Linked DNA regions of Homo sapiens: region 1 is linked to region 2. Evidence: fine-mapped expression QTL. A gene starts in region 2. The other region holds a variant in brackets. All regions are shown on one strand. Distances are from middle to middle. Region 1 overlaps C1QTNF7-AS1 (C1QTNF7 antisense RNA 1). Region 2 holds the start of CPEB2 (cytoplasmic polyadenylation element binding protein 2).

The links.
Region 1: its variant is fine-mapped to the expression of CPEB2 in whole blood (TOPMed, PIP 0.99).

What each region holds. Positions count from the first base shown.
Region 1 is chr4:15,069,036-15,080,965 of GRCh38, forward strand. All of the region lies in intron 2 of C1QTNF7-AS1 (C1QTNF7 antisense RNA 1), which reads right to left. It overlaps CPEB2 (cytoplasmic polyadenylation element binding protein 2), which reads left to right. Exons shown (of 12, transcript NM_001177382.2): 12 at 1-1,116. Among named protein-coding and RNA genes, the nearest start is that of CPEB2, 73 kb to the left of the region's middle. The variant T/C (reference allele first, on the strand shown) is at 7,034.
Region 2 is chr4:14,995,865-15,007,794 of GRCh38, forward strand. It overlaps CPEB2 (cytoplasmic polyadenylation element binding protein 2), which reads left to right and starts at 6,617. Exons shown (of 12, transcript NM_001177382.2): 1 at 6,617-8,471; 2 at 11,441-11,722. The coding sequence starts at 6,810. CPEB2-DT (CPEB2 divergent transcript) reads right to left here and starts at 6,181. Exons shown (of 8, transcript NR_038857.1): 1 at 6,074-6,181; 2 at 5,762-5,861; 3 at 5,297-5,365. It overlaps C1QTNF7-AS1 (C1QTNF7 antisense RNA 1), which reads right to left. Exons shown (of 6, transcript NR_125911.1): 5 at 10,607-10,706; 6 at 9,078-9,293. RefSeq lists enhancers at 5,606-5,655, 8,497-9,063 and silencers at 5,896-6,755, 7,256-7,565, 7,616-7,765, 7,866-8,075, 8,456-9,055.

The DNA of each region.
Region 1 (11,930 bases), 73 kb after region 2:
TTTTGATTGTATTTTTGTATTTTAAAAGCTTCTTCACTTGTGTTCCCTAAATATTCATATTGCTGCCCAAAAGTATGACTGTGGAGGAAAAAAAAATACTTTAAAAATCCACACTTTTTGTTAAGAAGGAAACATTTAGCATTTATATATTTGTGTATGGAAAACACTTGATATTTTATCCCTGTTGCATCTGGCTGCACAGAGCCTCTCCTCAAAGATGCTACAAAACTTGAATATAACACATTTTGGAAGGCTGACTAACCTCGATTCTGTGTTGTGATGTGCAATACTGTTTCTAATGTTTGTATAAAAAAAAACAGTGTAAACCTTTTTAATGCAAATTTATTTTTTTCATTGCATATTTTGCAGATTTTATCCACAGTGTCATTTTTTACTGTCAGAAAAGATACCCCTTTTGTCATTGCAACTATTTTTTAAATCCAGAAATCTTTGTACTGATGTAAATGATTGTAGTTATTTTGGATAGTGTTTTGCTAACAAAAGGAGAGACTTTTTTCATGCATATTTCTATTTTGTTTTTTTGGGTTTTATTTTATTTTAATAGTAGTAAAATACTTGGAATAATTTTTCATATTCTTGTCATTAATATTATTTTGTATTTTTATGTGGAAATATATAATTTTATGACACTAATTGCTAAAGTTTATTTTATGTTGAATTATTTTTGGAGCTGAAATCTTTGTAATATTAAAGCAACTAGTTTCTAATTCCCAGTTTCTGTATAGAATCGCACAAGTGGTTTATGGAGTGTTTGGATTGTAATTATAAATGGTTCTTTGATATGCAAATTAATATTTTCAGTTGATTTTATTTTATATTCCTAATGGGGTGTTAAAGCCGTTTTTTATTTTTTTCTAAATAAAAAGAGAACCCATGCTTTTATGGACACTAGGTAAACACCTTCAGCTTAAATTTTTCGTTAAATATTTTAGTTTATTTTATTGTTATCTTCCAGGTGTCTAAATCTCCAGTCTGTCTGTTGTACTGGTAATTTAACTCTGTAATGGAATAGTTTGCTGCCAACTATTTATATTAAGTAATTTTTAAATATTTGTAATATTGTTGACTGACTAATAAACTATTAAGTTATTGGCATAGTTGTGGAATCTTATTCTTCGGTTCAAATCAAGTAAAATATTCAAAAACACCAGTAAGATCTTATTTAGAGAGAGAGCTTAGTGACATAAATATATTATGATGCCCAGGCCAAACTACATTTCAGTACAAGGATAGAGGAGAAGCCTTGGAGACCATGTTGTCTAGTATCTCTCAGTATTTCAGCCCTGAGTCCTCTTGTGTCAGTTCTCCCACCCTCATCCCCCATATATCATAGAAATTTCTGTGTTACAGTCATCACTTATAATTAATATTGCCATATCTAAGTTGATGCTGCATTCAAAAAATGAGGAACTGTTAATCATGTTGCTAAATGCACAGTTTTCATGATACTTTCTCAGATACCCTCTAGTTGGGAATCACTTGTAGTGTTTTACTTGTTCTTTGCACAGCCTGTGTGGATTTTTCAGTGTCTACTTTGAAGAGGGAGGGAGAAGGAAAAGAAGTATAGAGTAAGGAGCCTGGAATCTAGGTTCCTCATCCTAATTATAACTAGAACAGCTCTACTTTTAACTTTAACAAAGCTGAAGTTCTACCTAAAAATTGGTATGCAGTCACTGGGCAGAAGGAGGAAAGGATTCCATTGCATTTTCAGAAAATGAAAGATCACTGATCATAACCAAATGTTTTGTTTTACCTATAAGGACATAGGTATGTCAGAAAGGGTAAAACTTAATGTTTCCTCATCTTCTACAAGACACCATAGAAACTCCTTAAATGGGCTAATCTTGCCATTGTATGCCCTTCATATTGTGTCACTGTCACCCATGTCCTCCAAGCAAATCATGCATCTCTACATATCTGTATCTTGTTTAGCATATGCTGCCATTTTTCTATTTGGAATCTATTTTCTCTTTCCTCAACAAAGTCCTCTTTCATAATAAAACTAAAGAGCCGCCTCCACATTCTGGCCTATCTAAGACAACAGGAATTTCACAGTGTCTTAATTCCCTTGCTACTGACATAAAGATCATTTTCTTATGCTCCCCTTTCCCTCGGTTATTTAAGAAAAGAATAAGCTTTGAATACCAACTTAGTACTGAACACCGACTTTGTCAAATCTTTGCTCACAAGGTCTCATAGCCTTGAAGGTGAAAGGCCAGGCTAACTCAAATGCAATGCAGTATGCTAATAAAAGATAAAATACACTTTCATAAACATGTATAAAGCATGAAAGGAAGGAATATTCTTCTTAAGTAATTTCATTTCCTTGAAATGAAATTACTTAAGAACTTTTACATAGGGGATAGCATTTGACTTAAATTTTTCCATGAACAAAGAATTAAAAGATACAAAGATTAGCACTCACAAATCCTTTCTAAAAGAGTTACTTAAAGATCTATTTCACCAAAAAGAAGGAATGATAATAAAATACCCAGGAAACATGAAGACATGGGATACTACATAGGTAAAAAATATCGCTCTAGTGTATAGTTAGGAAACGAAATGTGGCTAAAAAGCTTCACACAATTTAGAAGCAAGTCCAAATAAAGTCATAATTTAAAACATCGATGTTAAAATAATAACTAAAACTCAAGGTAATTTAAAGCAAAACCTGGATGAACATTTGAAATGAAGAAGAAAGCCTTGTTTGGGATAGAAGAAGATAAGACTATAGATGTTGATTAATTTATTATTAATACTAAATTGTCTTCAAATTGCAATATATGTAATTTTTAAATGCATTTAATATATATTTAAATGTAACATTTTAAATATTTTAAGTCAAATACACAAATTATGAAAAAGATAAAACCCCACCCACCCTTTCCTCATCTACAATTTCCACTCATAAAAGGCAACTTTTAACTCTTTTTAAGTGTTTTCACTTTAACAGTATCATGTTATTTGCCTTATTATATCCAAATAGCACACTTAACAATGTTTATTTTTCAGTTTAAGACATTGCTGACCTCCTAAAATGACTGCATATTTTAATTCAGACATCCCCCATGTATGCACACACACACTCAGAGTGTTCATTTTGTGAATAATTTATCACGCTGATGATTATTTCCTGAGCACTTTTCTGTATATTTTACACTTCACTAATAAAATTTATTTTAAAAAGGAAAATGGAAAAGAAAACAATGCTTGCTTCAATAGCAGGATAAGAGAGTGAGGAACATAGGAAGAAATACAAAAACAGAATCAAAGAGATTTTTCATGGTAACTAAATTCTAGGTCTATAGGCTGTTTTTAAAACCATTTTGTGCAATGTAATGCACATATAGAAAATGAATTTCCTATCAGTTCACATTATGAATAATTGTAAAACTTGTTGAGAAATAGAAAACTTTTCTAAGCGGAGACTCAACAGGTTTCTGTACATCTATGTTCATAGCAGCATTAGTCACAACAGCCAAAAGGTGGAAGCAACCGAAATGTTTGTCAATGGATGAATGAATAAACAAAAAGGAGTATATGCATACAATGGAATATTCAACCTTAAAAAGGAAGCCTTGAAAATTCTGATACATGCTACAACATGGTGGAAGCCTGAAGACATACTGGGTGATATAAGCCAGTTGCAGAAGGACAAACACTGTATGATTCCATTGCATGAGGTACCTAGAGTGCTCAAATACATAGAGAAAGAATAGTGGTTGCCAGGGGCTAGGGGAAGCGGGCAATGGGGAGTTATTGTTTGGCATAGAATTTCATGTTGAGATGAAAAAAGTTCTGGAGATAGATGGTGGTGATGGTTATGCAGCAATGTGAATGTACTTAATGCATATATATATGTAAAAATAAGTATATGGAGATGTGAAGAATAAGACAAGGTGTTTATGGTCAATTCTAGGAGTACTCTGATAATTTCAATGACATTAAAATAAGGGAGATGTGTGCAATAGGCCACAAGAACACAGAAAATAAGTAATAATTTAAAGAACAAGTGAATAAAGAACATTTCCTGGAAGAAATAAAAACTGAGATTAGGCATGAAGAATATGTGTTACTTAACCAAAAGAAAAAAGTGATAAGAGATTTTAGGGAGAAGAAAGAGTTTGAACAAAGCTCAAAACAACCTGTAGGGTGTGTCTCTAGAGCGTAAATTCCAAAGCCCGGCATGGCAGATAATGAGGTTAGAGATCTAACTGTGCAGATTATGGAACTTTTCAAGACCAACTTCCCTGCCATCTCCTCTAGGAAGCTTCATTTCAATTAGCTTTCTCTCTACCCTACACTCACTGGAGCCGGGATCTACCATTTTCTCCTCTCAAAGAAGAAAATACATTATGTTAGTACTTGGGCCTCACATGACAAATGGCAGGCATGTGGTGATACTATCAAGACACAGATAGTCATATGATAAGTAGTGGCGCTGTGTGTCAAAATAAGCTCTACTGCAAATCACAAAATTATTGTCTTTATTGATAAAACTTCAACAATAATTGTTAAAGTTAGCCTTACCTAATATATAGAACATATGTCTGTATGATTTGAAACTTTAAGTACAACAGACAACTGAGATTTTTTTAATGACGCCCTTGAACATATCATATAATACTGTTATTTTAACGCCCAACTTTACTGCCATTTGAAAAGTATTTTCTACCAAATAGTGAATCTACCTGTTCAATTACCTCTAAACTGAATACTTCCCAAGGAATGCCATCAGTTGAGTTAGATATTGTTAGTGATACAACCTTCCATCCAGTTTTTCTGCTTCTTTTCTTGTGAGCATCTAAGTCAGTATGCTAAACTATTTGTGTGTGAATCAGGATTTTTCTATATGTTGTGTAAATACAAAACAAATATGGAAATAAACTGTACACTAAGGCCAGTAAGCCAGCGGTGAAATAAGAGTGATAAATAATCCTTTGTTGTAGTAAGACAATGAGATTTCAGGGCTAATTTATTACTGCAGCAAGACCTAGTCTAGCTTGACTAACAGTTGTCATATAACACAAAATGGAAAAATGGAAAGTAAGTAAATGGCAGGGCCAAGATCCAAACCTAGTTCTAACTACACCAATGGTTCTCAAATCTATGCTGATTGTTTCTTAAAACATATATTCCCGAAGTTCCAGTCACAGATATATTTATTCAGTAGGCCTTGAGTGAGGCCCAGATGAATATATTTTTAACATGTTCCCCAGGTGATTCTACTGTACAGGCAGGGTCAGGAGCCATCGGACTATGCCACACCACACTGCCCTGCCTTACTGTTCCCATCATCATACTCATGTTCTTGTAAGAGAAGCATGGCTGCTCTTGACCTTTGAGGGAAAATAATGTCTAGAAAGGGAAAAGCTTGGAGAAGATATGTTAGAAAATTATAAAATCAGAAAAGCGGCAAACCGATATACTAGAAAGACAGTGAACTGGGAGCTGCATATACAGTTAGAAAAAGGAATTTCTATTCTATCCTTGCCCTATAGGAGCTAGAAAATCTTGAGAAAGTCTATTAAGCTTACTGGGCATCAGTGATACCTACTATACAGAATTGCTATGCAGATTAGGGATTATGTATGTAAAGCACCCAGTGTTCTCTCTGGCACATAGATACACTTGATAAATATCAGCTTTTTCCCATCCCTCTCCTGCCTTCTAGAACCATCACATTGGCTTTCACTTCCCGTATCTAGCAGACTGGAATAGAGACACATTTAGAGGCAACAACAACAACAGCAGCAGCTCTCAGCTTCTTCTGGGGTGCAAGGAAAGAGTTGGGGTATGTGTCCAATGTTTGAAAGTTTTCCAGGGGCTTCCCAAAGGACTAGTTTCTGTCTTACCTATTGCAGAGTGCTGATAGGTCTTGGCATACTCTAGAGGCTTAGAGGCAAGTGAGAACAAAGACAATGGTTTGAACTAGCATGGAAGCAGCCACAATAGCCCTTCCCCATGCCTCAGAGCACAACGCAAGCAGATGATACATCTTAGATGCTAGCATTTCCCTGAGGAAGGAAAGAATTGGCCCGCACATCCAAAGTTCCAATTTTTCAGGTACTGCTTGAGGCTTCTGTCTCACCTGTCTGAAAGCAATGACAGGGCCCAGCATACTTTAGATGCTTGGGGTCTACTAAAGGACAAAGATGATGATTTGGACTGGCATAAAAGTTTGAGAGGCCCCCCAACATATCTGGCCAGAATGATTGGTGAAAGTCTTCTCCTGTATAAGGCCACTCCGTGAAGATGAAGAGAGTTGACTGTTTTATCTAATACATAGATACCAACACAAAAAGTCAAGGAAAATGAAAAACAATACAAAACTGAAAACTATGTCCTCCAGAAGGGAACAAGATACAGCTTCAGAAAGTGGCCCTAATGAAATGGGAGATATATTGCTAATAGAAAATTACTAATAGATAATTCACAATAACTGTTATAAAGATGCTTAATGAGGTCAGGAGAATAATGCATGAACAAAGGAATTATTACAATAAAAAAGTAAAGTACCAAACAGAAATTTTGAAACTAATGAATGAAACATTTGAACTAAAAAATAAAAAATTAGTAAACTTGAAGACAGATTGTGAAAATGTTTTTGTCAGAGGGACAAACGGAACAAAGAATGAAAAAGAGGAAAGAAAGCTTAAGGGAAACAATATACACATTATGGGAGTCTCAGAAGGATCAGAAAGGGTAGAAAGTGTATTTAAAGAAATAATAACTGAAAACTTCTTAAATCTATGAAAGAAATGGACATCCACATCTCAGCAGCCCAAGGACTCCCAAATAAAATAAACCCAGAGAGATCCACACTGAGACACAATGTAATCAAATTTTTAAAAGTCAAGGAGAATTTTGAAAATAGCAAGAGAAAGCTTGTTATATCTAAGGAAATATACATAACAGTATTGGCAGATTTCTTAGCAGAAATCTTACAGCCTAGAAGGCAGTGAGATGATATATTAAAAGTGCTGAGAATGAAACTGTCATCCAAGAATAC[T/C]ATAACCAGCAAAACCTGTTCTTCAGAAATGAAGGCATGATAAAGACTTTCCCAGACAAACAAAATCTGAAGGAATTCTTCACCAATAGATGTGCCTTACAGAAAATGTTAAAGGGAATTCTTCAAGTTGAAGAGGAAGAATGCTTAACATCTATTAAAAAGCATATGAAACTATATAACTTCATGGTAAAGGTAAATATATATACAGATTGAAAATACCATGACATGTAATATGATAGGTAAATAAGTTTTAGTTTGTTTAGAGGTTAAAAAGGCAAAAACAGTAAAAATAACTATAACTATAAAATATGTTAATGAATAAACAATTTTAAAAGATATAAATTGTAATATCAAGAACAAAGTGTGGGGAGAAGAAAAGTAACAGTGTAGAGTTTCTGTATGGAGTTGATACTAGCCTGAAATAGACTATTATAACCATAAGATGTTTTCTGTAAGCCCCATGTAACCACAAAGAAAACACCTATAAAATATGCACAAAAGAAAGTAAAAAGTAAATTTAAAAAAGTAAGTAAAAAAGAATCAAAGCATATCAATACAAAAAAAAAATCAACAAAGGAAAACAGCAAGAAAGGAAAAGAACACAAGAACCAAAAGACAGAAAACTAGAAAATGGCAATAGTAAGTTCTTCCCTATGAACAATCACTTTAAAGGTAAATGAATTAAATTCTCCAATTATAAATGGCTGCATGGATAAAAATAAAATTAATAAAATATAGGAACTTATTATATGCTGTTTACAGGAGACTGACTTTAGATTTAAGAACATATACAAACTGAAAGTGAAGAGATGGAAAAACATTCCATGCAAATTGTAACCAAAAGAGAGTAGCATGCCTATGCTTATGCTAGACAAAATAGACTTTGAGACAAAGCTGTCACAAAAGGTCATTATATAATGATAAAATAATTATTAAGGAAAATGTAACAATTTTAAATATGTATTCATCCAACATTAGAAGTATCTAAATATATGAAGCAAACATTGACAGAACTAAGGGAAAAACAGCAATAGTAGGATACTTTAATACCTAACATTTAACAATGAATAGAAGTTCCATATGGAAAATCAATGAAGAAACAGAGGACATAAACAATACTGTAGACCAAATGAATCCAAGAGACATATATGGAATATTCCACCAAACAGCAGAAGAATACACATTTTTTTCAAGTGCTGAATTAATTACATGTTAGGTCACACAGCAAATCTTAACAAATTTAAGAAGACTGATCTCATACTAAGTATTTTTTTCTGACCACAATGAAATGAAACTAGAAATCAATAACTAAAGAAAACTGGAAAATTCACAAATATGTAAATTAAACAAGACACTCCTGAACAGCCAGTGAATCAAATAAAAAATCAGAAGGGAAATTTGAGAATATCTTGAGAAAACTGGAAATGGAAACACAACATACCAAGTCCTTTGGACTGTAACAAAATCAGGAAAAGGAAATTATGCAGCAATAAGCACCTACATTGAAATAAGAAAGAACTCAAATAAACAGCATAGCTTTGTACCTCAAGAAAGTAGAAAAAGAACAATCTAAGCCCAAAGTTAGAAAAAAGAAAGAAAGAAAGATTAAAGCAGAAATGAACACAATAGAAAACAGAAAACCAATTAAAAAAAATAAAACTAAGAGTAGGATTTTGAAAAAGATCAACAAAATTGACAAACCCATAGCTAGAATTGAAAAAAAAAAAAAGAGAGAGAGAGAAGACTTAAATTAAAAAAATCAGAAATGAAAGAGGAAACATTTTACCTGATGCCATGGAAATAGGATCAAAAGAGGCTACTATGAACACTTATACACGAACGAATTGTATAACCTAGAATAAACAGATAAATTACTAGAAACATACAACCTACTAAGATTGGATTATGAAGAAATTAAAAACCTGAACAGATCTATAATTAGTAAGGAAATTGAATAAGATGGCTTCACTGGTGAGTTACACCAAACACTTTTAAATAAATAGATGACTTAGGATTATGCAATTCTTTTTATAATTTTTGACCCTTTTTTTGTAACTTTTAAGTTCAGGGATACAAACCTTGTACAAACAAGGTTTGTTACATAACGTAAACTTGCGTCATTGTGGTTTGTTGTAGAGATGATTTCATCACCCACATATTAAGCCTAGTACCCCATTTGTTATTTTTCCTGATCCTTTTCCTCCTCCCATCCTCCACCCTCCAAAGGGCACCAGTGTATGTTGTTCCCCTCTAAGTGTCTATTTTCTCCTCATTTAGATCCCACTTATGAGCACATGTGGTGGTATCCCAAGAGAAATCTAACCGATTTTGTAGTGTGACTATTTCAGATTCTGTTCTGATTTTTATCACTTAAATTCCTAGGAATGAGAAGACATGATAATAAAAAATATTATTCAATTATTAAAAAATTAATGCCAATCCTTCTTAAACTCTTCCAAAAACTTCAAGAGGAGGGGAAGCTTTTAAACTTATTTTATGAGGCCAGTATTACCCTAATACCAAAGTCAAAGACTCTTCAAACAAAATGTGGTATATATATACAATGGAATGTTATTCAGCCTCAAAAAAGAAAGAAATCCTGCCAAATGTGACAACATGATGAATCTTGAGGACACCGTGCTACATGAAATAAGTCAGTCACAAAAGAACAAATATTTATATGAATTTCCAAAAATAGTCATAGGGGCAAAGAGTAGAAGGGTGGTCTCCAGAGTTTGGGGAAAGTGGAAAATGGGGAGTTGCTGGGCAGTGAGTATAAAGTTTTAGTCATGCAAGGTGAATGAGTAAGTTCTAGAAATCTGTTGTGCAATATCATGACTGTATTGAACAATATTGCATTGTACACTTAAAAATTTGTCAAGAAGATAGATATGTTAAATGTTCTTACCACAATTTTTTAAATTACTGGAGAAATTATAGGGTTTTTTTTAAAGAAAACATCCTACTTGTTAAATTAAGTGTTTCTTTGGATGTTAGTTGAGTTTGGTGTCTTTCTTTCATATTGCTTTCTTCAAATATTTGATGTATTCATTTTCTGTTGCTGTGTAACAAACTACCACAAATTTAGTAACTTAAAACAAAACGCATTTACTAGCTCACAATTGTGTAGGTCAGAGGTCTGGGGGAACATGACAGGGTTCTCTGCTAAGGACGTCACGTGGCCAAAATAAAGATGACGGCTGGATTGGACTCTTGCCTGAAGACTGTGGGAAATAAGGTACTTCCAAGAGCATTCAAATTTCAGCAGAATACTGTTTCTTGCATTTGTGCTTTTGAGATGTCTGTTTCTTTGCTGTCTGGTGGCAAGGGGCCACTCTCATCTCCTAGGACTGACCACACTCCTGCTAACGTTGCTTCCTCCTTCAAAGCCAGCAAAAAATGTGTTGAATTTTTCTCAAGTTTGGAAACTTTCTGTTCTGCAACCAGCCAGCGAAAATTTTGCTTTTAAACGGCTCAGCTGATTGAGTCAGGCCCACTGGATAATCTCTGTATTATAGGATCAACTGACATGTAGCTTTAATTACAGCTGCAAAATTTCCTCATAGCAGTACCTAGATCAGTGCTCAATTGAAAAATAAGAAATGGGAATCTTGGGAGACCATCTTTAGAATTCAGTAATTACATGTGGTGTTCCTGGGCTGAATTGAGAATTATTATTGCTATCAGAAGAGTCAGGTTCAGATTATAGGCTTTCACCACTAGGAATTGTCGGACAGGGATGGAACCAGCAGCTAAACAGGTAGCCCTGCCATATATTTGACATAGAAACTTCTGTTTTTAAAAAGTTATGATTACTATATGCCATTTATTAAGCATTTCCTCATTCATGTGCAAGATCTTCATTATTTTTCTTCCTTTTTCTTTTCTTTAGTTTTTCTCTTTTTATTTCTTCCTTTCTATTTCTTTCTTTTTTCCCCTTGTTCAAATTATACTGATGATGACATGTAAATCATTAACCATTCTACAGGAAATAAACCATAGCCCTTACTTATTTAAAGTGACTTTATCAATTATTTCAGATGAGAAGGAAACTGAGTTCCAAGAAGGGAGAATGACTGGTTTGAAGTTCCAAGGCTGTTTGGTGGATGAGCCAAAATGGGAGCCCCAGAGTCTTTGTCCAGTGCTTGCCTTCCCCCCAGACCATGAGAAGCCACTCCACTGAACTTTTTGAAATGTCATCATGCTGCCTGAGAAACTAAAATTTTGGTGGCTCGCAATGATGTCGTTACTCAAAGTGGTGCAGGCATTTCTCCTACAGAGTGACTTTTCACGATCTGAATTAGACACAATGCAGTATATTAATTTGGAGACTTATTTTGCATTACGTAATCTGCTATTGATTAAAATGAACCATTGAGCAGTTTAGTCATGAAGAAAAATGCTGCTTCACATGCAGCACAGTTGTTTCGTTTGGGTGTCCCTGAACTTTCCAAGACCATAGCAAACTCTTTCCTCCTCAAGGACTTTGCATTAGCTGTTCCCTCTGCTTGGAATGCTCTTCCCCCAGGTCTTCTCTGTCTTCAGATCTCAGATTTCATGAGGCCTTTCCTGTCCATGCATTCTGAAGCGAGCCCTTCCTGTTAACTTCCCTCTCGGTGTCTTACCTAGTTCCTTTATCACATATCAAAATCTATAATTATTGTATTGATTTGGTTGCTTACATGTATCATGTCTGTCACTCCCACTAGATTGGAAGATGGGAAGATTCTTGAAGTCAGAATTCTTACCCTTCTTAGTCACTATGACAGCCCCAACATTTAGAACAATGCCTCATGCAGAGCAGAAATTTTTGATAGACAATTGCTAAGTAGATAAAAACAGATGGTAAGAATGTATAACAACAGCTAGTAGTGACAGAAAAAGGAAAGAGATTGTT
Region 2 (11,930 bases):
GTTACAGAAATAAGCATTCCACTGTAGGGAAGCTTTCAGAGGGGTTAGTGGTGGCAGGAGCGATTCTGAAGAACCTTTTGGTTATTAAAATGTTTTGACTTCTATTCTGAGAAAATGTAAGTATTTAGTCAGAGGAGTTGACATGACCTGTCTTCCACTTCAGAAGTATCATCCTGGCTGCTATGTTGGGAACAGACTGGAGAGGGGCAAGATCAGAAGCTGGAATACGAGTTAGTAGGTGAGAGCAACGATGTAGCCTGGTCCAGGCTGCTTGTGGTGAGAATGGGGTGAAGTGCTTGGATTCTGGATATATAGGCACTCCTCGCTTTATTGTGCTCTGCTATATTGTGCTTCTCAGATAATGGGTTTTTCACAAATTGAAGGTTGGTGGCAACCCTGCATCAAGCAAGTCTATCAGCACAATTTTCCCAACAGCATGGCTCAATTTGTATCTCTGTGTTACATTTTGGTAATTCTTGCGTTACTTAAAGCTTTGTCATTATTATTATATCTATTTTGGGGATCTGTGATCATAATATTTAATGTTACTAGTGTAACTGTTTTGGGACATCACAAACCACAACCATATAAGACAATAATTTAATCAATAAAGGCTTTGGGCTTCCCTATTCCCTGAGACAAAACAATATTGAAATTAGGCCAATTAATAACACTCTAACGACCTCTAAGTATTCAAGTGAAAGGAAGAGGTACATGTCTCTCACTTTAAATGAAAAGCTAGAAATAATTAGGCTTAGTGAGGAAGGTATGTGGAAAGCTGAAATAGGTTGAAAGCTAGGCCTCTTGCACCAAGTAGTTAGTCAAGTTCTGAATGCAAAGGAAAAGTTCTTGAAGGAAATTAAAAGTACTATTCCAGTGAACACGAGTGATAAGAAAGTGAAACAGCTTTATTGCTGATATAGAAAAAGTGTGAATGGTCTGGATAGAGAAAATTAAACCAGCCACAACATTCCCTTAAGCTGAAGCCTACTCCAGAGCAAGGCCCTAACTCTCTTCAATTCTGTGAAGGCTGAGAGAGGTGAGGAAGCTGCAGAAGAAAAAAGTTCAAAGCTCGCAGAGGTCGGTTCGTGTTTAAGGAAAGAAGCTGTCTTCGTAACATAAAAGTGCAAGGTAAAGCAGAAAGTGCTTATGGAGAAGCTGCAGCAAGTTATCTAGAAATCTAGCTAAGATAACTGATGAAGGTGGCTACACTAAATAAGTTTTCACGTAGAAAAAACAGCCTTCTATTGGAAGAAGGTATCATCTAGGACTTTCATAGCTGGAAAAGTCAATGCCTAGCTTCAAGCTTCAAAAGACAGACTCTTTTCTTAAGGGCTAATGTAGCTGGTGACCTTAACTTGAAGCCAATGCTCATTAATCATTCTGAAAATCCTAGGGCCCTTAAGAATCATGCTAAGTCTACTCTGCCTGTGCTTGGTAAATGGAACCACAAAACTTGGAAAGAGCATAGTTTACTGAACATTTTAAGTCCACTGTTGAGATCTACTGCTTAGAAAAGAAGATTGCTTTCAAAATATTACTGCTCATTGACTATATACCTGGTCACCCAAGAGTTCTGATGGAGATGTACAAGAAGATAATTGTTGTTCTCATACCTGCTAACCCAACTTCAATTCTGCAGCCCATGGATTCAGGAGTAATTATGAGTTTCAAGTATTATTATTATTATTTTTGAGACAAAATCTGGCTCTGGCTATAAGACTGGAGTTCAGTGGCACTATCTCGGCTCCCTGCAACTTCCGCCTCCCAGGTTCAAGCGATTCTCCTGCCTCAGCCTCCCAATTAGCTGAGATTACAGGCATGCGCCACCACACCCAGCTAATTTTTGTATTTTTAGAAGTGAATGGTTTTCACCATGTTGGCAAGGCTGGTCTTGAACTCCTGACCTCAAGTGACCTGCCCGCCTTGGCCTCCCAAAGTGCTGAGATTGTTTTGAAATAAAGCTGCTATTAAGCAATTCTTCTAATAATGCAACTAACTCCTCTTTATAATTCTATTTTCATTTTAAAATTTAAAATCACTAAGTTGTCACCAGGACAGCCTCAAGTATTATTTTAGAAATAAATTTCATAAGGCTATAGCTGCCATAGTGATTTCTCTGATGGATAAGGGCAAAGCAAATTGAAAACCTTCTGGAAGGGATTCACCATTCTAGCTGCCATTCAGAATATGTGTGACTCATGGGAGGTCAAAGTGTCAACATTAACTGGAGTTTGGAAGAAGCTGATTCCAACCCTCTTGGATGACTTCGAGGGGTTCAAGACTTCAGTGAAGGAAGTTACTGCAGATGTAGTAAAAATAGCAAGAGAACTAGAATTAGAAGTGGAGCCTGAGGATGTGACTGAATTGCTGCAATATTACAATAAAACTTGAATGGAGAAGGAGTTGCTGCTCATGGATAAGCAAAGAAAGTGGTTTCTTGAGACGGAATCTACTCCTCATGAAGATGCTATGAACACTGCTGAAATGACAAAAAAGATTTAGAATATTACATAAATTTAGATGATAAAGCATTAGCAGGTTTTGAGAGGACTGACTAATTTTGAAAGAAGTTCTGTGGACAAAATGCTATCAAACAGCATTGCATGGTACAGAGAAATCTTTCATGAAAGGGAGATTCAATTTATGTGACAAACTCTATCTTTGTCTTAAGAAATTGCCACAACCACCTCCGCCTTCAGCCACCACCATGCTGATCAGTCAGCAGCCATGAATGTCGAGACAAGACTCTCCACTGACAAAAAGATTATGACTTACTGAAGGCTCAGATGATCATTAGCACTTTTTAGCAGTATTTTTAAATTAATGTGTGTATATTTTTCAGAATAATGCTACTGTGCACTTATTTAAATGTAATTACAAGTTATGTTTAGACTATAATTGAGAACTTATGTTTAGAGTATAATATACTGTAAACATAACTTTTACATGCACTGGGAAACCAAAAAATTGGTGTGACTTGCTTTATTGGGATATTTGCTTTATTGTGGTAATCTGGAACAAAACCCACGGTATCTCTAGGTTATGCCAGTAATTTAAAGGTAGGACAAGCAACATGTTCTGATGGCTTGGATATGATGCAAGAAGGACAGAAGTGGATTGAAGTGAAGAATGACTCCAGGGTTTTTGGCCTGAGCAACCAGAACAATGGAGCGCCACAGGGATTGGGCCTAGTGAGGCAGGGAGTTTAATTTTTGACGTGTTTAATTTGAGGTATCTATGAGACACTCAGTCAAATGGGCAAGTCGTTCAGGCAATGTAAAAGCAGAAAAAGAAGGCAGTAGCTAAAGGAGGGAGAATATAAGGTCAAAAGGTTTTGGCTTTACTTTTCAAAGGTGAGAACTAGTAAAGCAAGTTTTTGTGCACATGGAAGTGTTTCCTGGAGAGGAAAGAGGTCATGATGAAGGACAGAGAGAGAAAACTGTTGGAGCCCATGTCTTGAGTAGGTTAGAGGTAGGATCTGCTCCGCCAGTGGAGAGGCTGGCCTTAGACAGGAGTATGGGCAGATGGGCCATCCATTGTATCGAGAGGGAAGGCAAGGTGTGCAGGGACAGATGCAGGGAGACTGTGGAAGTTTTCCTGTGGTTGCTTCTTTTTTCTCAGTGAAATAAGCATGTAGCTCAGCAGCTGAGAGTGCTACATGCTAGCAGATGCATGTAGGAGAGATGTGACAAGAGGTTTTCAGATTGAGCAGAATGTTTGAAATGGTCTAGGACAGTGGTTTTTCAGTTCATAATCTGATAGAGGGTGTTAAAACCAACTTTGTAATTTGAGATCAAACGTGATTTTAAAATGAAAATAGAATTATAAAAAGGAGTTTGTTGCATTATTAAAAGAATTGCTTAATAGCAGCTTTATTTCAGTTGCATGAGTGTGTACTTGCACATATATTGGGTTGTAGCAAAAATACTTTTAAAAATACTTGCCCAGGACAGTGGGAGTAAATGAATAAGGGACTGTCAAATACAAAGTCAAGGTCCTAGTTAATGATCATGAGTCAAAATATTTTCATGTAAAAAACCAAAAAAATCATTGAATGGACTCATAAGATCTTGGCATGGAAACTGCTAGAGGACCATAGTCCCTCCTCAGTATTTGCTGCTCCTTCTCCCTACCCCACTCCACTCTCCACCCTAGGAAACCTTTTCATTTGAATATTTTCAATAAGGGCAAGATCACCAGCTTACAAGATGTCAGAAAGTAACTTTCTGCTCTAAAAAAATGGGGCCCTCACAAAAGTAGTGAGTAGAGGCCCTGGCAGGATTTGGAATTTGGTGTATTTAATATGAAGTTTGACATTATTATGTAATAACAAACTTGATGGCTTTTCCCCGTTTCAGAGAGCTCTAAATCCTCTAAGACAAAACTAGTACCAGAGCACTAAGAAATCTTGTTTTTGTTCAAAACTCTAGCCCAGAAAGGCACCAGTTAGCTTTTAAAAGTATGTGCTCTCTCCTCTTTACTAACTGCGGTGTTAGTGGATAATTGAGCTAAGGTTTATACCTGTATTTTCCCCCTATTTCAAGATTTGTTGTTGGATCTGCAAATGATTCCAATCAAATACAACTGTACTTGGAAAAAAATCATCCGTTGTTAAGACTTTACATTCCTTAGTTGCAGAAGTAGTTTTTTTTCCTGCACAATACCTTTTAAAAAATGAATATTTAATATGTCAATATATACTCTGAAAATAACCATTTATATTTTAAATTCTGAGCTCAGGTTATTTTCTAGACATTGTAATTTAGAATAAAAATACTTCTCCAGTTCTACATTTTGCCTGACTGTTAAAAATGATTTTGAGATTAATAAGTTGAACCAATTTTCTATTCACCTGACCAAATTCTGAACCATTTGAGTTTTTTAAAAAGTACTTTTTCCTTATTGTAAAGGCAACATAAAACTTGGTTCATTGGACAGGATAGCAGAGATAAACATTATACATGAAGTATAGTTCCCTGGGGCAATGTTGCTCTCTTTCTACCATGTTTATTTCGATTTATATAAATTTGAGACACTGAACAGAAGTAGAATTCAAATAGAGAATGAGGACTTATAAAAATGTACACTCTGCCTACATCAGTAAGAGTATGCTAATTTATAAAATTAAATATTTAATCTTAGTTCACTTGTAAACCAAAATCAAGTAAAGTCTGAATCCACCTTCTATTGCTTTGGGGGTTTGAGTCTATATTCTAGGATTCATTTAATAGTTTCATTTCTCTAAGCATCAAGCAAAACAGTTAAAATTACAAAACAGAAACATAAAGTTCACCTCATCATGTAGTATGGATCACTCTGTTATTCTTTATCTAGACCTTCAAATACTTTATGTAAAATGTTTCTATACAAAAGGAAACACAGGATTAGTTCCTCCTCTAATGCTTCTAAAGAGCTCTACCATGGAAAGCTCTCTCCCTTCCATTTTGCAAGTCTCAACAAGTCTGCTGCTGAGTCAGAACCTCCTTTTTTCCCTGATGTAAGAACTATTTCTCCCTTGAAAATTCATAAAGCTTAGGAATAAATTAGAGTCTCCCTGGGGGGAAGGGGCGGGGACGCCGGAATGAATGTGGTGGGGAGGAGTCCCACGCTGCAGCCCTGATGGCACACGAAAGGCTTTTATGAAGCGGAGCTGGCCCGGGGTTACTATGGGAGCTCGCCGTGGAACCCGTTCCACGCATCCGAGTGTGTAAATAACCACGCGGAGCGTGTTTGTTCCAGGGACTTTGTTCCTTCTTACCCAAGTGAAAATGCCTGGAATATAGCCGAGGCTTCATGTTTACCCTACAGAAACACCCTCGGCGGCTCTACGACGTCGGTGACAGCACTCCTACCAGCGCCTAAAAACAGAAACAAGCTTAGAGGGCGCTACCTAGGGCTACAAGGAGGCCCTAGATCGGGGACTCGGGGTCTAGAGGTGCGCGGCGAGGCGCTCAGCGGACTTCAAGCCGGCAGAGCCCAGACGCTAGTTCACCACAGGACCCCCGGGCTGGGCCGGGCTCCCGCGTTGCGCTGGGGGCCCCTCGGGCGCCTATTTCTACGCGGGTCGCACAGTGCAGGCGCCGGTCGGGGTCCCGGGCCTCAGTTTCCCCCGCGGGCCAGCCCCGCTCTGGGAAGCCCGAGTGGTGCAGCAGGGCTTCTCCCCACCCAGGGCGGAACCGAGGTGACAGGAAGGAGGAGGCACCGCGAGGGGCGGAGACGCGTGCGACCCAGGCAGACTCTGCGCGGATCCCGCGCCAAGGAGGGGCCGTTGCCCAGGAACCGTCCCTCCCTCCCGCGCGTGCTTGCCCTCGTGCGCGCGCCCGCCCAATGCTCCCGACCACTGTTTGCCAGCCGACCCCCACCCCAACCGGCCTGTCCATTTCCCCGGGAGCGGAGAGACCCAACGGGACACGCCGCTCGCTCCCGCCCTCCCGGGAGCGCGAGCGCGCCCTCGGCTGCGTCTGCATAGTAATGAGGGGCGGGGAGGGGCGACGGGGACGCGGTGGCCTCGCGCCCGCGCGTGCCGGGACGCACCGCGGGGGGCGGCGCGATTGTGAGGTGGCGCTGACGCACGTTCCGGGGTTCTTAAGCGGCCAGGGCGGCTACGGCGACTGCGACGGCGGCGGCGGCGGCGATCGCCGCGAGGGGTGGTGGGGCCGAAGTCGGTGCCCCCTGGCTCAGTCACGGTGTCCCTCTCTCACTGACTCCCCCTCCTTCCACCACGGCCGCGCAACCCCAGCGCCGGCGGCTTCCTAGGTGGGGCAGGGGACGAGGAGCGTCTCCTCCCGCTGCCGGCGGCCTGATAAATGAGGGATTTCGGGTTTGGGGTGCTGCAGACCGCCCCGCTCCGAAGTAGCAGTCCTGGGCCCCTGTTCTGCGGCGAGGCGTATGGTCCTTACGCCGTGGGGTCCGTCAACCCGCTGCCCTCCGCCACGCCCTTCGGCCCACTGTCGCCACCACCGTTGCCTGTCACCGGCTTCTTAGAGGCCGCCTCCCCCTTCTCCGTCCCCCTCGGCGGCGGCGCGGGCAGCCCGGCCGCCGCCGCTTCCTCTTCCTCCCCGTTCCTGGCGCATCAGCAGACCATGCAGGATGAGCTGCTTCTGGGGCTGACACAGCAGCCGGCGCGGCCGCTTTCGGGGGCGGCGGCCACGGAGAAACTCCCCGACCACCACCCCGGCGGCGGCACGATCGCGGGTGTGACCCACCTCCTCCCCTCCCAGGACTTCAAACCGAGTCTGCACCACCCCTCCTCCTCCTCCGCCTCCTCCTGCTGCTGCTGCCGCACCTCCTCCCCGCAGGACTTCAGTAAGCGGCAGCAGCAGCAGCTGAGCAGCCAGAAGAGGAAAGAGTTCAGCCCTCCCCACCTTCCCCACCCTCCGGACTCGAAGCCGCCGCCGCCGCCTCCGCCGCTCCACTGCCCCGGTCGGTTCAGCCCGCCGCCGCCGCCAGCCGGCCCGCTCCTCCAGCCGGCGCAGCTCGCTCAGCGCCAGCAGCAACAGCCGCCGCAGCAGTTCAGCCTCCTGCATCAGCAGCACCTCTCGCCGCAGGACTTCGCCCCGCGGCAGCGTCCGGCAGACCTGCCCCCGCTCCCGCAGCTCCCTCCCTCGCCGCCTGCAGCCCCGCGGCGCCGCCACGGAGGCGCGGGCAGCCCTCGCAAGACCCCAGCCGCGGGCGAGGGCAGCGCCGCCGAGTCCCCCAATGCGGGCTTGGCCTCCTCGACGCCGGTGAACCCCGCGCCGGGCTCCATGGAGTCCCCCAACCACCCTCTGCTCAACAGTCCCAGTAACCTCCTGCCCGGAGGTGCGCTTGGCGCGGGCGCCTTCAGCAGCCTGCAGAGCCCGGACCTTCCACACCCGGGCGGCGGCGGCGGCGGCGGGGGCGGGGGGCCCCCAGGAGGCGGAGGGGGAGGCGGCTCCGCGTCGCCGCCGCCGCTGCCCGGCTTCGGCACCCCCTGGTCGGTGCAGACCGCGTCGCCGCCACCCCAGCCCCAGCAGCCGCCGCCGACCCAGCCGCAGCAGCAGCCGCCGCCACCCCAGCAGCCGCCCCAGCCGCAGCCGCAGCCGCCCGGCTCGTCTGCCACCACCCCGGGCGGCGGCAGCGGCGGCTCGCTCAGCGCCATGCCGCCGCCCAGCCCCGACTCAGAGAACGGCTTCTACCCCGGGCTGCCGTCGTCCATGAACCCGGCCTTCTTCCCTAGCTTCTCGCCCGTGTCGCCGCACGGCTGCACTGGGCTCAGCGTTCCGACGAGCGGCGGCGGCGGCGGCGGCTTCGGCGGCCCCTTCTCGGCTACCGCTGTGCCCCCTCCGCCGCCGCCCGCCATGAATATACCTCAACAGCAGCCCCCGCCGCCCGCGGCGCCGCAGCAGCCGCAGAGCCGGAGGTCGCCCGTCAGCCCGCAGCTCCAGCAGCAGCACCAGGCGGCGGCCGCCGCCTTCCTGCAGCAGAGGAACTCCTATAACCACCACCAGGTACGGCGGGCGGCGGCCTGGCCGCGCCGCGGGACCGGGAGACCATGGGCGGGGGACGGAGGCGGGGGCAGGGCAGCCGGGGACCCGACCTTAGCCCCGAGAGAAGCCGCGACGGGGGCCACTCGCCCAAGTGAGAGTGGAACTGAGGGCGGACAACCGTGACAGGACTCGGAACCCCAGCCCCCGGTGGGTTGGGAGGGCAGTGGCCACCGTGGGCTGTGGGGGCGTGGGAGACGAGTTCGCGCTGGGAGCCGCGGCTGGCCGGGCGCCCCCTCGAACGTCCCGGCGCAGCAGTGGGGACTGGGGCAGGGGCCGAATAGCGCCGGGGCCGCGGGCGGCCGGGCGCGGCGTCTCAACCCGGCCCTCCTAGCTGGCGCACCCCGGGATCCGCCCTGTGCCCTGGGCCTGGAGGGCCGCCGCCCCGGACCCCCGACGCGGGGAGGCGCGGCGAGGACCGGGGGCTGGCCGGGGGCCTCGGAAGAGCGGCCGTGGGAAGTGAACTTGGGCAGGGGAAAAATGATTGCTGGAGAAGGTGCGTGCGGAGGAGCCCAAGACTCTGTCTCGCTGTCCAATGAGGGAAGGCGGAAAGGCTTTTTTTTTTCTTTGGAGTTTGTTTATTCTTATTTGGCCGGCGGTGATCTCGCCTTGAAGCCTCAGCCCCTCGGGCGGTCAGTCGAGCCGCTCCCAAAGCTCCGCCCGATCAACCTGCTGGCAGCGCCGCACCCTGGGCCGCCGGCCCAGGAGGGAGTCGGGAGGGAGCGGCCGACCGCCCTCCTCGCAGGACCTGGTTCCCGCGGGGCCGCCTCCTTGGCTGTCACAGGACTGGGAAAGAGAAACTGTTAGTGACCGCTCGGGTTCAAACCGAGATATCCCACGAATGTCTTAGTTTCTGTGCTTTTCAATGTTGGGGTCATGTTTTGTGGGTTTTAAGACAAAACTGAACTTGGATCTGGGATTGGTGTGTTTCCTCGTAGACTTTCGGTACATTTTTTGGTTGCCTTAACCTTCTACAAGGGAATATGTGGGCCGTGTGTATTTTAAGTAGGTAATATTGTGAAATGACACTGGGCAGAATTTTTATTTTCCGGATCTTTTTTGATTCAAGATCTTTTTTGTTATTCCCTCAATACAATTTTTGGGTGACCGCTAGATTGGTAAATTGGCATTGAAAGAGTGTCTTGTTGGTTTTGAATCTTGTTAGCATTTGTTGCAGAGTTCATTCTGTTTAAGTCCATTTTCTATTTTCGTGATTAAGGATTGACAGAGACGCAAAATATGACCTTAACCCCATAACTTTTTCAGTTGACCAAAGTTTTCAAGGATTAGTCTTTTTAAAGTGAATATTATCTAAATTAACCCAAGTGAAAGTTAACAGTTTATCTAAGTTAACCAAAGTGACAGTGAACAGTTTTTGTTGAATCACTGATTTCTTTCTTAGAAAAGAGAATGTGGCCTATGAGGATTGAAAATAGGGATTTTGAAATAATGTTCCACTTTTTCATGATTTTTATAACCCTCAGCAACTGTCTTTTGTGTCTCAGGATCTTCATTTTGTTATCTGGAAACTTGCCCACAGAAAATTATCTGTAGGTAATTTTGTATTTACTTAAAGTTGTGGTACAGAGCGTTGGAAGAACATATACCATGATCCATATTTAACTGTAATTTGCTTTTGGACAAAAGATGGGTCTAGCCATGGAGTGTGAGAGGTCACACAGCTTTCATATGGAATTTTAGATCACTGGAAGATAACTTTGAGCATTAAATCATTTAATAAGGAGAGTAAGGCCCTCAAGAATGAAGTGGTTTGTCCATGGCTCTGTAATTATGCTTTGGACCTCTGTGGAAGAGGAAAGAGTAATAATATACTCATGATTATGTTAGCATTTAAAAGTGTTTAAAAATTGGTGCTGTAGATCAGGAGTTTCTCTTTTAATTGTCTTACAAAAAGCAGGTTCAATTTTAAGAGAACCATATTTATTTGTAGTAACTGTATGGTTCATACTTCTTTAGCTACATCTTAACACCAAAGTATTAAAGTATAAACTTACTGACAGTAGAATTACCAGCAATGAATACTTCTTAAAAAAAAAAAAAACCCAAAACTACAATTATTAGCGTTTTGATGGATTTACCATTCTTTGATGATTTGACTTGTCTTGCCACAGGTTTGAGATTAGGATGTAATTTACTTTTGAAAATGAATCAACTTGATGGAGACTTGTATCAAGATCTCTAGTGGAATAATCAAAGCATATAGTTAATTAGCAGTATACCTCAGTGGATCCACCTATGGGCAACATCAGATAATTGCTTCACAGTTTATGGATAATTAAGTGAAATAAAAACAATTAAGACAAACTATGCTAAAACTGGAATAAAATGCCTTAACAGTTAAATAAACAATGCAGAAAAATGACATAGTTTCTATACTGTCCTTATTTCAAAAGGCGATTTTAATTTGTACAAGAGTAATTCCCACTTTTGTAGTAGTGCAACTTGTTTTGGAAACATAAAGTCTATATATTTCACTTGTATGAGTAGGATATTTTAATTAACAAAGACCATATTTTTAGTTGTGTGCCTAGCATAATTAATATGGTTGCTTTAAGATCACCATGTATGTTATATCTTTAAGAATCTTCAGAGTTAATTTCAATTTTTTTCTTCATATTTATCATGTATACAGTTATCTCTGAAGGATAAAAAGGAACTGCATGGTTCTATTTTAGTAACTGTCATAAAATATCATGATATTTATAGTATACAAGAAGATGAAAACTTGACCAGCATCAAATATGATTTCACATAGAAAGATCTCAAGACTGTTACTTTTATAACCTAGAAAAGATGTATTCTTTTGCCTTTATATATTTCATTCATATAAATTCTTAGGTCTGAAATTTGAATTTGAATTTGAATTGTAAATTCTTTAAATGCCGCAATTTAAATAGCTATGTTTTCCCTAGCCTCTTCTGAAACAGTCTCCCTGGAGCAACCATCAGAGCAGTGGCTGGGGCACTGGAAGTATGTCCTGGGGAGCAATGCATGGCAGAGATCATCGTAGAACCGGAAACATGGGAATCCCAGGAACTATGAATCAGATATCTCCATTGAAGAAACCGTTTTCTGGTAATGTCATAGCACCACCGAAATTTACTCGCTCAACTCCATCACTGACTCCAAAATCTTGGATTGAAGATAATGTGTTCAGAACAGACAACAATAGTAATACACTCTTACCCTTACAGGTAAGAATGGTATGTAAATGACCTTATCTCTAATGTTAATCTTTCAAAATAGGGAGTTGGGTGGTGGTGGTAGTGGTATGCTAAAATTAACATTTTTTGAAATAAAGTTTTAATTTTTAAGCATGTAATTTAATTAACAAAGGTTAAAATATCTATACAGAGAAAATTGAGAATGTAAAATAATTCTCTAAACACGCAATGGAAAATA